4 linked regions of the Homo sapiens genome follow. The protein of the gene in region 2 interacts with the protein of the main gene of each other region in a pairwise test. Each region holds a gene or a part of one and is shown on either strand. Other genes may lie near its edges.

Region 1 (3,500 bases), 930 kb from region 2:
TCCACACCGTTGGCCACTGACTGTTTCTTAAACTGCCCCTTGGCCTGTCAGGGGAGCGAGCATGGGGCACGAAGAATTCGCTTGCTCATCCTTCAAATATTTACCAAGCCCTTTTTTTTTTTTTTTTTTTTTTTTTTTTGAGACGGAGTCTCACTCTGTCGCCCAGGCTGGAGTGCAGTGGCGCGATCTCGGCTGGCTGTAAGCTCCGCCTCCCAGGTTCACGCCATTCTCCTACCTCAGCCTCCTGAGCAGCTGGGACTACAGGCACCCGCCAGCACGCCCAGCTAATTTTTTTTGTATTCTTAGTAGAGACGGGGTTTCAGCATGTTAGCCAGGATGTTCTCGATCTCCTGACCTCGTGATCCGCCCACCCCGGCCTCTCAAAGTGCTGGGATTACAGGCGTGAGCCACCATGCTTGGCCTTTTTTTTTTTTTTTTTTTTTAGACGGAGTCTCTCTCTGTCACCCAGGCTGGAGTGCAGTGGCACAATCTCCGCTCACGGCAACCTCCGCCTCCTGGGTTCAAGCAATTCTCCTGCCTCAGCCTCCCAAGTAGGTGGGATTACAGGCATGTGCCACCACGCCCTGCTAATTTTGTATTTTTAGTAGAGACAGCGTTTCTCCATGTTGGTCAGGCTGGTCTGGAACGCCTGACCTCAGGTGATCCTACTGCCTCCGCCTCCCAACATGCTGGGATTACAGGTATGAACCACTGCACCCAGCCTGAAGGGGTCATTTTGAATCAGGCAAAGGTGTATGGTGCTGTCCACATGGAAGGCACCAAGAACAGGGCTTCTCGAGCCTCATGGGTGTGGGCCTGAGTTCTAACAGTTGTTGGCTGTGTATCTGCAGGCAAATGCCTTAACTTCTGTGTGCCTCAGTTTCCTCATCTGTAAAATGGACAGGATAAGGGTCCCCACCTTAGGATTGTGGAGGCCTGGGCTGAGAGGGCATATGAAAGGCTTGTTGAAAAAAGCCGGGGGTGGTGGGCCACACCTGTAATCCCAGCACTTGGGGAGATGGAGGCAGGCGTGGCGGCAGGAGCCTGTAATCCCAGCTGCTCGGGAGGCTGAGGTAGGAGAATGGCATGAACCCAGGAGGCAGAGGTTGCGGTGAGCTGAGATCACACCACTGCACTCCAGCCCGAGTGACAGAGGGAGACTCTTTCTCAAAAAACAAACGAACAAACAAACAAAAAAACCCTTCAGTCCATCACAGGAGAGTTATTATTTTATTTGATAACAGATTTTTTTTTTCTTTTTTCTTTTTGGAGATGGGGTCTAGCTCTGTCATCCAGGCTAGAGTCCTTGTCTCACTACAACCTCCTCCTCCTGGACTCAAGCAATCCTCCCACCTCAGCCTCCCAACTAACTGGCACTACAGGCACTCACCACTTTACCAGGCTAATTTTTGTATTTTTTGTAGAAACAGGGTTTCGCCCTGTTGCCCAGGCTGGTCTCAAAGTCCTGGGCTTAAGTGATCTAACCACCCCGGCCTCCCAAAGTGCTGGGATTACAGGTGTGAGCCACCGCACCCACCCGAGATCATGCATTGTTAATAAGCATTCCCCCAAGGCCCACCTTGACCATGATCTCCACGCGGCTGTGGGAGAACTTCTCAATGACAGACTCAATCCAGATCAGTGGCTTGACCTGTGGGAAGAAGAAGGGGAGAGTTCTTGGAGACTCCATGTTGACTCTCTTCTTTTTTTTTTTTTTTTTTTCTTTCTTTGAGACAGAGTCTCGCTTCTTCGCCCAGGCTGAAGTGCCATGGCGTGATCTTGGCTCACTGCAACCTGCACCTCCTGGACTAAAGCAATTCTCGGCCGGGAGCGGTGGCTCACGCCTGTAATCCCAGCACTTTGGGAGGCCAAGGTGGGCGGATCACGAGGTCAGGAGATCGAGACCATCCTGGCTAACACGGCGAAACCCCGTCTCTACTAAAAATGCAAAAAATTAGCTGGACACGGTGGCATGCGCCTATAGTCCCAGCTACTCGGGACGCTGAGGCAGGAGAATGGCGTGAACCTGGGAGGCGGAGCTTGCAGTGAGCCGAGATAGCGCTACTGCACTCCAGCCTGGGTGAAAGAGCCAGACTCCGTCTCAAAAAAATAATAATAATAAAAATTAAAAAAAACAAATAAAGCAATTCTCCTGCCTCAGCCTCCCCAGTACCTGGGATTACAGCATGTGCCACCATGCCCAGCTAATTTTTGTATTTTTAGTAGAGACAGGGCTTCACCCTGTTGGCCAGGCTGGTCTCGAACTCCTGTCCTCAAGTGATCCACCCGACTCAGCCTCCAAAATTGTTGGGATTACAGGCGTGAGCCACTGCGCTGGGCCCAGGGTCGCTCTTCAGCCTACCCCAACCTACTCCACCCAGATGGGGCTGGACCCTGCCTCACCTGGGTGCTGAGGCGGTATGACATGAGCTCAAAGTCACCATCAGGCGGGATGAAGGAGATGGTGCGGTCGTTGTCAAAGCGAGAGAGCCGCACGCACTGGTGGAATTTTACATCCTCCAGCTCTACTGATTTGTTCTTGCTGCCTGAAACTCAGAGTGGAGAGTGGAGAGTGACCCTGGGAACCAGGAAAGGATCCCTATCCCCACCTTTCCTGCCGACCACTGTCACCTATTTCACATATGGGGAAACTGGGGCCCAGAGAGAATGAGCAAAAACTGGCACAGTAGAGCTGGAATCTGAACCTAGTATCTGTACAGGATCTGGCTTGGTTTTTTTTTTTTTTTTTTTTTTTTTGAGACAGAGTTTCACTCTTGTTGCCCAGACTGGAGTGCGATGGCACGTCTTGGCTCACCGCAACCTCCACCTCCCGAGTTCAAGCCATTCTCCTGCCTCAGCCTACTGAGTAGATAGGATTACAGGAATGTGCTACCACCCCCGGCTAATTTTGTATTTTTAGTAGAGACGGGGTTTCTCCATGTTGGTCAGGCTGGTCTCAAATTCCCAACCTCAGGTGATCCTCCCTCCTCGGCCTCCCAAAGTGCTGGGATTACAGGCGTGAGCCACTGTATACCCGGCAGTGTCTGGCTTTTAAATATGATGCTGAGGCCTGGCGTGGTGGCTCACGCCTGTAATCCCCGAACTATGGGAGGCTGAGATGGGCGGATCACAAGGTAAAGAGATCGAGACCATCCTGGCCAACATGGTGAAACCTCGTCTCCACTAAAAATACAAAAAAAATTAGCTGGGCGTGGTGGCTGGTGCCTATAGTCCCAGCTACTCAGGAGGCTGAGGCAGGAGAATAGCTTGAACCCAGGAGGCGGAGGTTGCAGTGAGCTGAGATCATGCCACTGCACTCCAGCCGGGTGACGGAGCGAGACTCCATCTTAAATCAATCAATCAGTCAATAAATAAGATGCTGAGCCAGGCACAGTAGTTCACACCTGTAATCCTAGCACTTTGGGAGGATTGCTTGAGGCCAGGAGTTTAGACCAGACTGGGCAACATAGCGAGACCCCCGTCTCTATAAAAAATTTAAA
Region 2 (3,353 bases):
GGCCTCAGGTGATCCGCCTGCCTTGGCCTCCCAAAGCACTAGGATTATGGGCATGAACCTAACTTTGGGTGGTTGTAAAATATGTAGCACAGTCCCTGGCAAATAATAAGTGCTCAGTGCTTGTGAATTAAAAAAAGAAAAATAACTTCACATATACAGAATATCCCAGGAAGGAGACACTAGAAGCAAATGATAGCTTTCACCTCTGTGGAGGACAGGGTGGGAAGGAATACCTTTTTTATCTTTTAAAATTTTATACCTTGAACATAATTCAAAAACACTAGACAATTTTTTTTTTTTTTTTTTGGGACAGAGTTTCGCTCTTGTTGCCTAGGCTGGAGTGCAATGGGGCTTGATCTCAGCTCACCGCAACCTCCACCTCCTGGGTTCAAGTGATTCTGCTGCCTCAGCCTCCCGAGTAGCTGGGATTACAGGCATGCACCACCACGTCTGGCTAATGTCTGTATTTTTAGTAGAGACAGGGTTTCTCCATGTTGGTCAGGCTGGTCTCAAACTCCCAACCTCAGGTGATCCACCTGCCTCAGCCTCCCAAAGCATTGGGATTACAGGCATAAGCCACTGCGCCCCGCTGACAAAGTTTTTTTTTTTTTAACAAAATGCACTTGCTTTTGAAACAAAACAGTGGACAGCTATTAGAACATATATCATTCATCCTTTCAAGTTAAAAAAAATTGAGATGAGCAGGCCGGGCGCAGTGGCTCATGCCTGTAATCCCAGCACTTTGGGAGGCCGAGGGTGGTGGATCACTTGAGGCCAGGAGTTCAAGACCAGCCTGGCCAACATGGTGAAACCCCGTCTCTACTAGAAATACAAAAATTAGCCAGGCGTGGTGGCACACGCCTGTAGTCCCTGCTACATGGGAGGCTGAGGCACAAGAATTGCTTGAACCTGGGAGGAGGAGGTTGTAGTGAGCCGAGATTGTGCCACTGCACTCCAGCATGGGCGACAGAGCAAGGCTCTGTCTCAAAAAAACAACAAAAAAATTTGAGATGGATCAGTGACTTCTAGTTGTATTAAATGAAATTTGTAAAAGGCAAGGTACATGTATATAATGCCCTGCTACTAAAGAAACTTTTTTTTTTTTGAGATGGAGTTTCGCTCTTGTTGCCCAGGCTGGAGTGCAATGGCGCGATCTCGGCTCACTGCAACCTCCACCTCCTGGGTTCAAGTGATTCTCCTGCCTCACCCTCGCAAGTAGCTAGGATTACAGGCATGCACCACCATGCCTGGATAATTCTTTTTGTATTTTTAGTAGAGACGAGGTTTCTCCATGTTGGTCAGGCTGGTCTCGAACTCCCAACCTCTGGTGATCTGCCTGCCTCGGCCTTCCAAAGTGCTGGGATTACAGGCGTAAGCCACCATGCCTGGCTAAAGAACTTCTTTTTTTTAAACAGACAGGATCTTGCTCTGTCACCCAGTCTGGTGTGCAGTGGTATGATCACGGCTCACTACAGACTTGACTTCCTGAGTTCAAGCCACCCTCCTGCCTCAGCCTCCTGAGTAGCTGGGGCTACAGGTGTGCACCACCACTCCCAGCTAATTTTCGTATTTTTTTGGTAGAGATGGGGTCTTGCCATGTTGCCCAGGCTGGTCTCGAACTCCTGGGCTCAAGCAATCCATCTGCCTCAGCCTCCCAAAGTGCTGGGATTACAGGCATGAGCCACTGTGCCTGGCTGTATTTTACTCCATAAGACGGGGGAGAAGGATATTTAAATACAAAGGATACAGATGCCAAAAAAAAAAAGAGAGAGAGAGAGAGAGATCTGCTTGCAAATGTATAGAACCTCTCTGGAAGGAGACATGGAAATAGTCACCTCTGGGGAGGGAGACGGGCGGCGTCAGGGGCAGCGCACGGGGCCTGGGTAGAAGCAGAGGACTCGTCACTGTGTGCTTTTACATGCTGTTTGGCTTTTTAGTGCATTGCTTTGCAAAATGAAGAAATGAACTAAAAACAACCCTCCCCCCCACATTCTGCTGCTGGTCTCAAGCCATCTCTCACCTGGACCCACGACCCTGGTCCCCTAGCCCCTCTCCCCATCCAACAGCATCCACACGGCTGCCAGGAGACACGTTTCCAATTGCAGATTCTTCCAGAAACATGATTCCAACCCGATTCCTTCTTCTTAAATCTCTGCCCCCCCACCCCCGGCATAGCTCTCCCCACCAACCAAGAGGTTTGAGATCAAGCTCTTTAATCAGGTGCCCCCACTCACTGCACCGCATTTCCTGGTACACACTGCTCCCTCTGCCCAGCGTCCTCTGCTCTCCTTACCTCCCCCAGGAAGCCCCACCTGCCCACTCGGCTCCCACAGCACCCCGGGCTTCTCCATCTCAGAACCACTGGCTCTTAAGGAAACTGTTATCTGTCCAGGACCACATGACAAGTGCTGTGAGGGGCTCTCTTTGGATCCCTTGTGTGATCTGGCATGAGTGGGGGCTCCCAGGACACTGAGTTGAGGGTGTTACTCCACTCAGTCATTCAACAAACCACTGCCAAGTGTCAGCTTTGCACCAAATCCTGTGCTCAGCCTTGGGAGACAGGAGGGAGACTGAGTCATGGTGAATGAGGAACCAAGCCAAGCACGGTGAAGGGGTGGTGCCTTGGCCAGGGAGGTCAGGAAGGGCATCCTGATTAGGAACAGTGGAGCTGAGACCGGAATAACATGAAGTCCATGGGGAACAGTGTTCCTGGCAGAAGGAACAGAGAACGCAAAGCCCTGTGGTGAGAATTGGCACAGAAAATAAGGAAGATGCCTAGAATGTAGCAAGTGTTGGGAGAAGGATGGGAGGGTGCTATGGTCTGAATGTTTATGGCCCCCTGAAATTCATATGTTGCAATCTATCTACAATGCAATAGGATTAAGAGGTCAGGCCTTTGAGAGGAGAGGCACTTAGATCATAAGGGCTCTGCCTTCATGAATGAGATTAGTCCCCTTATAAAAAAGGTCTTGGCCGGGCACAGTGGCTCACGCGTGTAATCCCAGCACTTTGGGAGGCCGAGGTGGGCAGATCATGAGGTCAGGAGATCAAGACCAGCCTGGCCAACATGGTAAAACCCCGTTTCTACTAAAAATACAAAAATTAGCTGGGCCTGGTGGTGCATGCCTGTAATCCCAGCTACTTGGGAGGCTGAGGCAGGAGAATCGCTTGAACCCGGGAGTCAGAGTTGCAGTGAGCTGAGATGGCGCCACAGCACTCCAGCCTGGCGACAGAGCGAGACTCCATCTCAAAAAAAAAACAAACAAACAAAGGTCTGAGGGGGCCAGGCATGGTGGCTCATGCTTGCAATCCCAGTACTTTGGGAGGCTAAGGTGGGTGGATCGCTTGAGCTC
Region 3 (2,928 bases), on a different chromosome or scaffold from region 2:
TTTTTTGGTATTTTTGTTTGGTTTGGTGGAGACAGCATCTCGCTCTGTCACCCAAACTGGAGTGCTTGGGGCCATCAATGCTCACTCAGCCTCGGCCTCCCGGGCTCAAGCCATCCTACACTAGAAAGGTCTGAGTCATTACAGAGTGGCCACCAGTGTCATCTGAGGCACGGGTAGGTGGCTCATTCAGGGCCACACCAGCGGCTCCTTTTTAGTACATGTGAAGAGTGTAAAGCAAAGGAGAATAAGGTGTGTAAAAGGTTGTGCCAATGGTGACTGTCAGCCACACTTCCTGCCCTCTTGCTTGTCCTTTCAAGTACAGAGCTGTGGCTCACCCAGAGATGACATTTCCCATTCCCCCATGCCCAGGTGGGGCCACGTGAAGTAGTTCTTCCAGATGGACGTGGCTCATGTCTCTTCTGGGTGTTCTCCAGGCCCGGGGGGTGGCAGATAAAGGGCAGAGGGAGACAGTTCCCGAGCCCCACAGGCTGGCATGTTGCCTGCAAGCCAGGACACCTGAACTGTCCTATGAGACCGAAGCTCTGGCTTTCAGTCACTGAAATTCGGGGGGTTATTTGTCCAGCAGTGAGAAGTGCCGATTCAGCAGTTACATCTGCTTCATGGAATCCGGCTTGAAGCACAAAGAAGGATGAAATGAACAAGTCCCGTGGAGATCTCACACATTTAGATATGTGATGGGGAAAATGCATTTTGGATGGTCCATGACTGTCCAGGTTTCAAATATTCTAGTCTACTGGAGTCCTCACGTTCACTTTTTCTTTTTTTTTTTTTTTTATTAATGTGGAGCAACCTGGCAGAACGTAGTGTGTATTTAAATCACCAGACTTCTGAAGGTGCCTTTGAGGACATGGAGTTCTCTTCCAATTCTCTCCCTTCTGCAAAAAGATCGTGAGACAGCGCAGGGTCGAGTGCTGTGGAGACTATGAGCTGCCTTTCTCCCTGGGATGTTAGAAGAATGAGTATTGGCTTTAAGGATGAGAGGTCCTTTTGAGTAAAGAACATTCTGTGAACACAGCAGGCAGTCCACAAGGGTTGGGGTTTGAATGAAGGGGGTGGCTGAGGATCTTCCAGGCACCTGTGTTTTGGGATTAGCCGTACTTGGAAGCCTGGTGGAAGCTGCTTTTCTATTTATGAGTCAAATTCTCTTTCACTCTGAATGTAATTATAATTGCCAAGCAGCTGTATCTTAATTTAGGGTCTTGAATCGGTAACGTTTCCTAAGGCTTTAATTTTAATTTTCTTTATTCCTTGGCCTTTCAAATATCTAATAATATCTAAATAAATTATTGAAAGTAGAAGAGTTCTCTATACATTGTAAAAGGAAAAATTACTTGGAAATATACACAGTTACCTCCAATTGATGCTTTGTAATTCAGGTTTTCTGTAAATTGTTTTTAAGTGTGAGATACTTTCCACATATGCCTGAAAAGCAAGATCTTTTCTTCCTTCAAAATTATACCTCAGAAAAAGGGTCACATTCTAGTCCAGACCTTGCAAAGTGTTTCAACTTGTGAGGTATGTTCTGAGATTAGTTTTGGACATAAAAGTACTATTTGGAATGACTGATCAATTGAATGAAATGATCGATATGATCTGGGTGTTTATTCTCAAGGTGGGGCCCAGACCCCGCAGCCTCAGCTCCTGGGAATCTGTGAGAAAAGCAGAGCTTTTCAGGCTTTGCCCCGGGCCTGCCGAGGCCACAGTCCGCGGGGTGAGCCCTGCGATATGCTTTACAGCCCTCCAGGTGATTCTGAGGCCCATTCAGGTTTAAGAACCACGGTCATAGAAGTTACCGATCACATTTTTAAATATGCAAAGTTATTTAACACAGCATTAGTTATCATTCCTGGAGGTGTCACCTCCCAACTCCAAGCATGGGTATCGCTGTGCGTGCGCTTTCAGAAGCCACTTGAGAGAGGAACAGAGTAAGTGTGCGGGCCACATATAAATATGTATGTACATCTATATGCATTTATGTTACAGTGTCACCTGTGTGTGCATATATTCTATCATACGTGAGTGTATCGCTCTCTCTACAGGATGCCTGGAGCAATCCCAGCTGTCCTGATGTTACATAAATGAGTTACTTAGCTCAAGATAAACTTCCAAAGACAGCATCATTAGGACTTTTTAAAGTACATTTTCCTTCAAACACTTTAGATGGAAATAGAGCTCATATGCTCTGAACAACTGTGTTGGGTGACTCCTAAGTGGCCCTATTGATGACAAAGACCCTGAGGTCCAATACTGATGTCACCTATTGCCTCCTTCTGCCTCAGTCACTGTGGCATACAGGTCCTATCTCCTTTATTAGTCCTGGGGCCAGGACTGTTCTTAACGCTGGTAATAGCATCCAGGGTTTTTAAAGGGTTTTGCACCTGTCGTCGTCACACCCTGCCTTTAAACCCTCTCAAGAGCTCAGTACACGCACCGACCATAGTAGGCACTTGTTGAAAGAAACAGACTTGTCAGTTTTGCATATATACCAAATAAATCTCAGGGAGGGTGGCCCTTAACACTTAGTGCTCCAGTCTTAATGGTAACTGGTGTAATATAGCAAGAAAGCAAATAAATGCTTAGGATATTTTAATATACATAAGAATCACAAACTAATTCCACACTCAGGTGTTTGATTCCACAGAAGAAAACCTAGCATGGCAGACGCAAATATTCCTTTCCACAAGTTTTGATGAAATATTCCATTCCACAAGTTTTGATATGTACTTTTGCTATTCAACTGAAATTTCTTCTCATTTCCATTATAATTTTGTCTTCGATTAATACGTTATTTAGAACCGTTTATTTTCAAACGTGAGATAGTTCTATTTTTTTAAAAAAAATTTATTTCTAGCCTCAGCTGCACCGTGGTCAGGGAACATACTCTACACGACTTAAGTTTCTTCAAGT
Region 4 (3,500 bases), on a different chromosome or scaffold from region 2:
TGTAGTGGCACGATCATGGCTCACTGAAGCTTCTGCCTCCTGGGCTCAAGCGATCCTCCCTCCTCAGCCTCTTGAGCACCTGGGACTACAGGCATGAGCCACCACGTCCAGCTAATTTTTTTCTTTTTTAAGATGAGGTTTCACTATGTTATCCAGGCTGGTCTTGAACTCCTGGGTTCAAGGGATCCTCCAACCTCAGCTTCCCAAAGTACTGGGATTACAGGCATGAACCACTGCACCTGGCCCTCCTCTTCTAGTAATACTTTTAACAGGCATTGTCATCCAACTCCAGCTGAAAAATTAGTTACTTTCCTATGACTAGAGACCCCTGTTGTAATAAGGAAAACATCAATGTATAAAGGGAAGGAAATCCATTTATAAAATTTGTCATTTTTTGGTTACTTGAAAAATAATCAGAGCAGCAACTCAGATCTTGCTGGGTATCAATGGTAGACAGATTCTTGGCTAAGGAAGTTTAAATTTTCAGGACAAGTACTAAGCACTAAATGTTAACATTTCAGAATCGCATTGTTCACAGTGTTTATTTGAGAACTCATAAGTTGACTGATAACAAATCTCAGACATCGGCTTTCCAGTTTTTGACGCAGTATTAGATTTCTTGTGAAATTTTTAGCTTGAATTTAGCCACTAACTTCTTGTGTTTCCTAAGCTTAAGGAAAATGAAGAGGTGAAAAAAATAACATTTCCCCCTAACCATTGCTCGCCTTTCCTCCTCCTCTCTTCCAGATATTCCGAGTGGTGTGCATCTGTTTGGGTAATCCACCAGAGACATTCACCTGGGAATATCGAGACAAAGATAAAAATTATCAGAAAATTGGCCCCATAACACCCTTGGAGTTTTACAGGGAACATGTCAAGCCACTCTTCAATATGGAAGATAAGGTTGGTGAATGGCACTGGTAGTCACTGGCTGTTTACTTTCAAATGGCTGTTAACCACAGGGAATTGTATAAGATTCTTGGTTAGCATGTATGAGTATCAAACTAGACAGCAAACAAACATTTTTCCCCACTTCCTCTGAAGTATTTTATGCAGCTAATGAAGTTGGTGGTGCCAGGATTTATCAGCTTTTCCACAATGTTCCTCTTCAGAGACTTTTTAAACTGTAAGCCAGCAGTCATTTTAATTCCCACATGCGCCCCTGTATAGGACCAGAATCATTCTCAAGTGCAAAACAATGAAAGTGTGTTGGGTATTTCTTATCGTGGATTCAGAGCACTTTTGCACTGAGGTCCCCTCGGGGAACTCTCCTGTTGAAGGGAGTAATCTTAGTTTTTCCTGTTCCCTTTAGGTCTTCCTCATCTGCCTAGTAGGAGGATCAGAGCCTCTTCCTTTTATTGGCTTCTTGATCCTCTTCCAAGCAGATGCCTGTCTTGTAACTTGAGAACAGGGGCCTTGTGATTAGCTCTCCAATTTTTCTTACTCAGTGCATGTTATTTTTCAGAATGAGTTTTGAGGGCCGGGTGCGGTGGCTCATGCCTGTAATCCCAGCACACTGGGAGGCTGTGGTGAGTGGATCACCTGAGTTCGGGAGTTCGAGACCAGCCTGGCCAACATGGTGAAACTCCGTCTCTACTAAAAATACAAAAATTAGCCAGGCATGGTGGCGCACATCTGTAATCCCAGCTACTTGGGAGGCTGAAGCAGGAGAATCACTTGAACCTGGGAGGCGGAGGTTGCAGTGAGCCGAGATGGCGCCATTGCACTCCAGCCTGGGCGACAGAGTGAGATTCTGTCTCAAAAAAAAAAAAAAAAAAATTGCTTTTGGAGCAGTTCTTGCTAGTAGGAAAAACAGGTAGATGCACCTCCTAATTGTGTCTCTTACGCGAATTAGAATAAGCAAGGACCTCTCTCACATGTATTTTGCCACCTTGTGTTTCTTTGTTACTTAACAATGTGGCTGTAGTACTTAGCTTGTAGGCAGAGATGATGAGCTTGATGGAAACATGAACCTAGAGGAGAGCTGTGTGTTGCTTGACATTCCTGGTTTTGTGCCCTAATTAATGTGTTCTTGATCTTGATAGATTTGTTTAGTGAATGACCCTAGGCCCCAGCACAAGTACAACAAACTTTACACAGTGGAATACTTAAGCAATATGGTTGGAGGGAGAAAAACTCTATACAACAACCAGCCCATTGACTTCCTGAAAAAGATGGTTGCTGCCTCCATCAAAGATGGAGAGGTTGGTATTGTTTCTGTATTTTGCACATTGGGGTTAAAACATCTTTTACTTCTTTGGTATAATAGGAAGATGGGGTTTATGTTGACTTTCTTCCTCTTTCTTCTGTTTCTAGGCTGTGTGGTTTGGCTGTGATGTTGGAAAACACTTCAATAGCAAGCTGGGCCTCAGTGACATGAATCTGTGAGTGCAGGAAATTTAAAATGGAAAGTCATTTGTGGGTTGTTGCTGTTGGAGTGTGCTGTTGGTACAAAATGACTCTGCCGAGGTTCATCCAAAGATGAAGGTTGACCTAAGGGCGCGTCTCTTTCTTTGCATCCTTTAGAGTTTGAGGACTCATAGCAGAAACTCCACATACTTAAACACTCTAACCCAGGACATCAAAATCCCACTTTCTATCTGAGTGGAAATCGTTGGGCGTTCCTAAAAAGCCATCCTCTATGAGAAAGACACTTTAAAAAAATAATTGACTATTGCGGAAATGTGTTCAGTGCATTTGGGAGTGTAATGAAAGATTTTCCAGAGCCCCCGTTTGCTATGTTACTTTGGTAACTTTGTATTTTGTCATTGTGACAAGTGGGACTAATTTGCATGCATACTTTATAGCATTCCTCCTGGTCATTTATGACAATGAAGGTTAATTTGTAAACTAAATCATATAGGATTCCTTGACTGTTCACCATTCTCTATTTTAGGGTTACTTATAAATAGTTGTTACTTGTAGGAAGTTGAGTAAATATCTTGATAGAGAAATCTGCTAAAAAAAAGAATTAATGAGGTTTAAAAAATTTTTGAAAACAGGTACATGCAACTCCCAAGTGTGTCTCTCACACTAACTAGAACATGCAAGGACCTCTCTCACATGTATTTTGCCTTTTGTTTCTTTGTATTTAACAATGTGAGTGTAGTGCTTATGCAAAAATATTCCCCAATATTTTGGACATTATTTATTTAAATTTTAATCAGCAGTGATTTAAATGAATTCAGAAACTGGTTGGTTCCACCAGCTCAAAAGAGATCAGTTTTCTAAGAAGTTACTTCAAACGCTTTTTTCATTATTTTTTAAAGTTTTCTTGCCTAAATGACAATGTAAACTTGTCAGCTTCTGATGTGGAGAATTTATGTTTAATCATCTCCTTTTTTTCCTGCATACTCTTGTGACACATAGAGAATGGACTCCCACTGAGAGACTAAGTTCTGCATGTTCCATATTCTTTCTGAAGAGCTACAGCTAGAGCCTTATTTATTTGGAGCTGTTGAGCCCCTTCAGTTTCTTCTGAATTCCTTTTACAACCAAAA

What was found. The genes of interacting proteins can lie anywhere in the genome.
Region 1: the proteins of ECSIT (region 2) and AP1M2 interact in a two-hybrid assay, tested with the Homo sapiens proteins (one study listed by BioGRID and IntAct).
Region 3: the proteins of ECSIT (region 2) and RNF32 interact in a two-hybrid assay, tested with the Homo sapiens proteins (one study listed by BioGRID and IntAct).
Region 4: the proteins of ECSIT (region 2) and BLMH interact in a two-hybrid assay, tested with the Homo sapiens proteins (one study listed by BioGRID and IntAct).

The regions. Positions count from the first base shown.
Region 1 is NC_000019.10:10,577,313-10,580,812, forward strand, and holds part of AP1M2 (AP-1 complex subunit mu-2), read right to left. Parts: intron 2,553-3,500; coding exon of another isoform or gene 2,547-2,552; coding exon 2,404-2,546; intron 1,652-2,403; coding exon 1,580-1,651; intron 45-1,579; coding exon 1-44. UniProt on the Homo sapiens protein: Subunit of clathrin-associated adaptor protein complex 1 that plays a role in protein sorting in the trans-Golgi network (TGN) and endosomes.
Region 2 is NC_000019.10:11,508,782-11,512,134, forward strand, and holds part of ECSIT (evolutionarily conserved signaling intermediate in Toll pathway, mitochondrial isoform 1 precursor), read right to left. Parts: intron 1-3,353.
Region 3 is NC_000007.14:156,671,774-156,674,701, reverse strand, and holds part of RNF32 (RING finger protein 32), read right to left. Parts: intron 1-2,928. UniProt on the Homo sapiens protein: May play a role in sperm formation.
Region 4 is NC_000017.11:30,271,445-30,274,944, reverse strand, and holds part of BLMH (bleomycin hydrolase), read left to right. Parts: intron 1-747; coding exon 748-903; intron 904-2,045; coding exon 2,046-2,204; intron 2,205-2,316; coding exon 2,317-2,384; intron 2,385-3,500. UniProt on the Homo sapiens protein: The normal physiological role of BLM hydrolase is unknown, but it catalyzes the inactivation of the antitumor drug BLM (a glycopeptide) by hydrolyzing the carboxamide bond of its B-aminoalaninamide moiety thus protecting normal and malignant cells from BLM toxicity.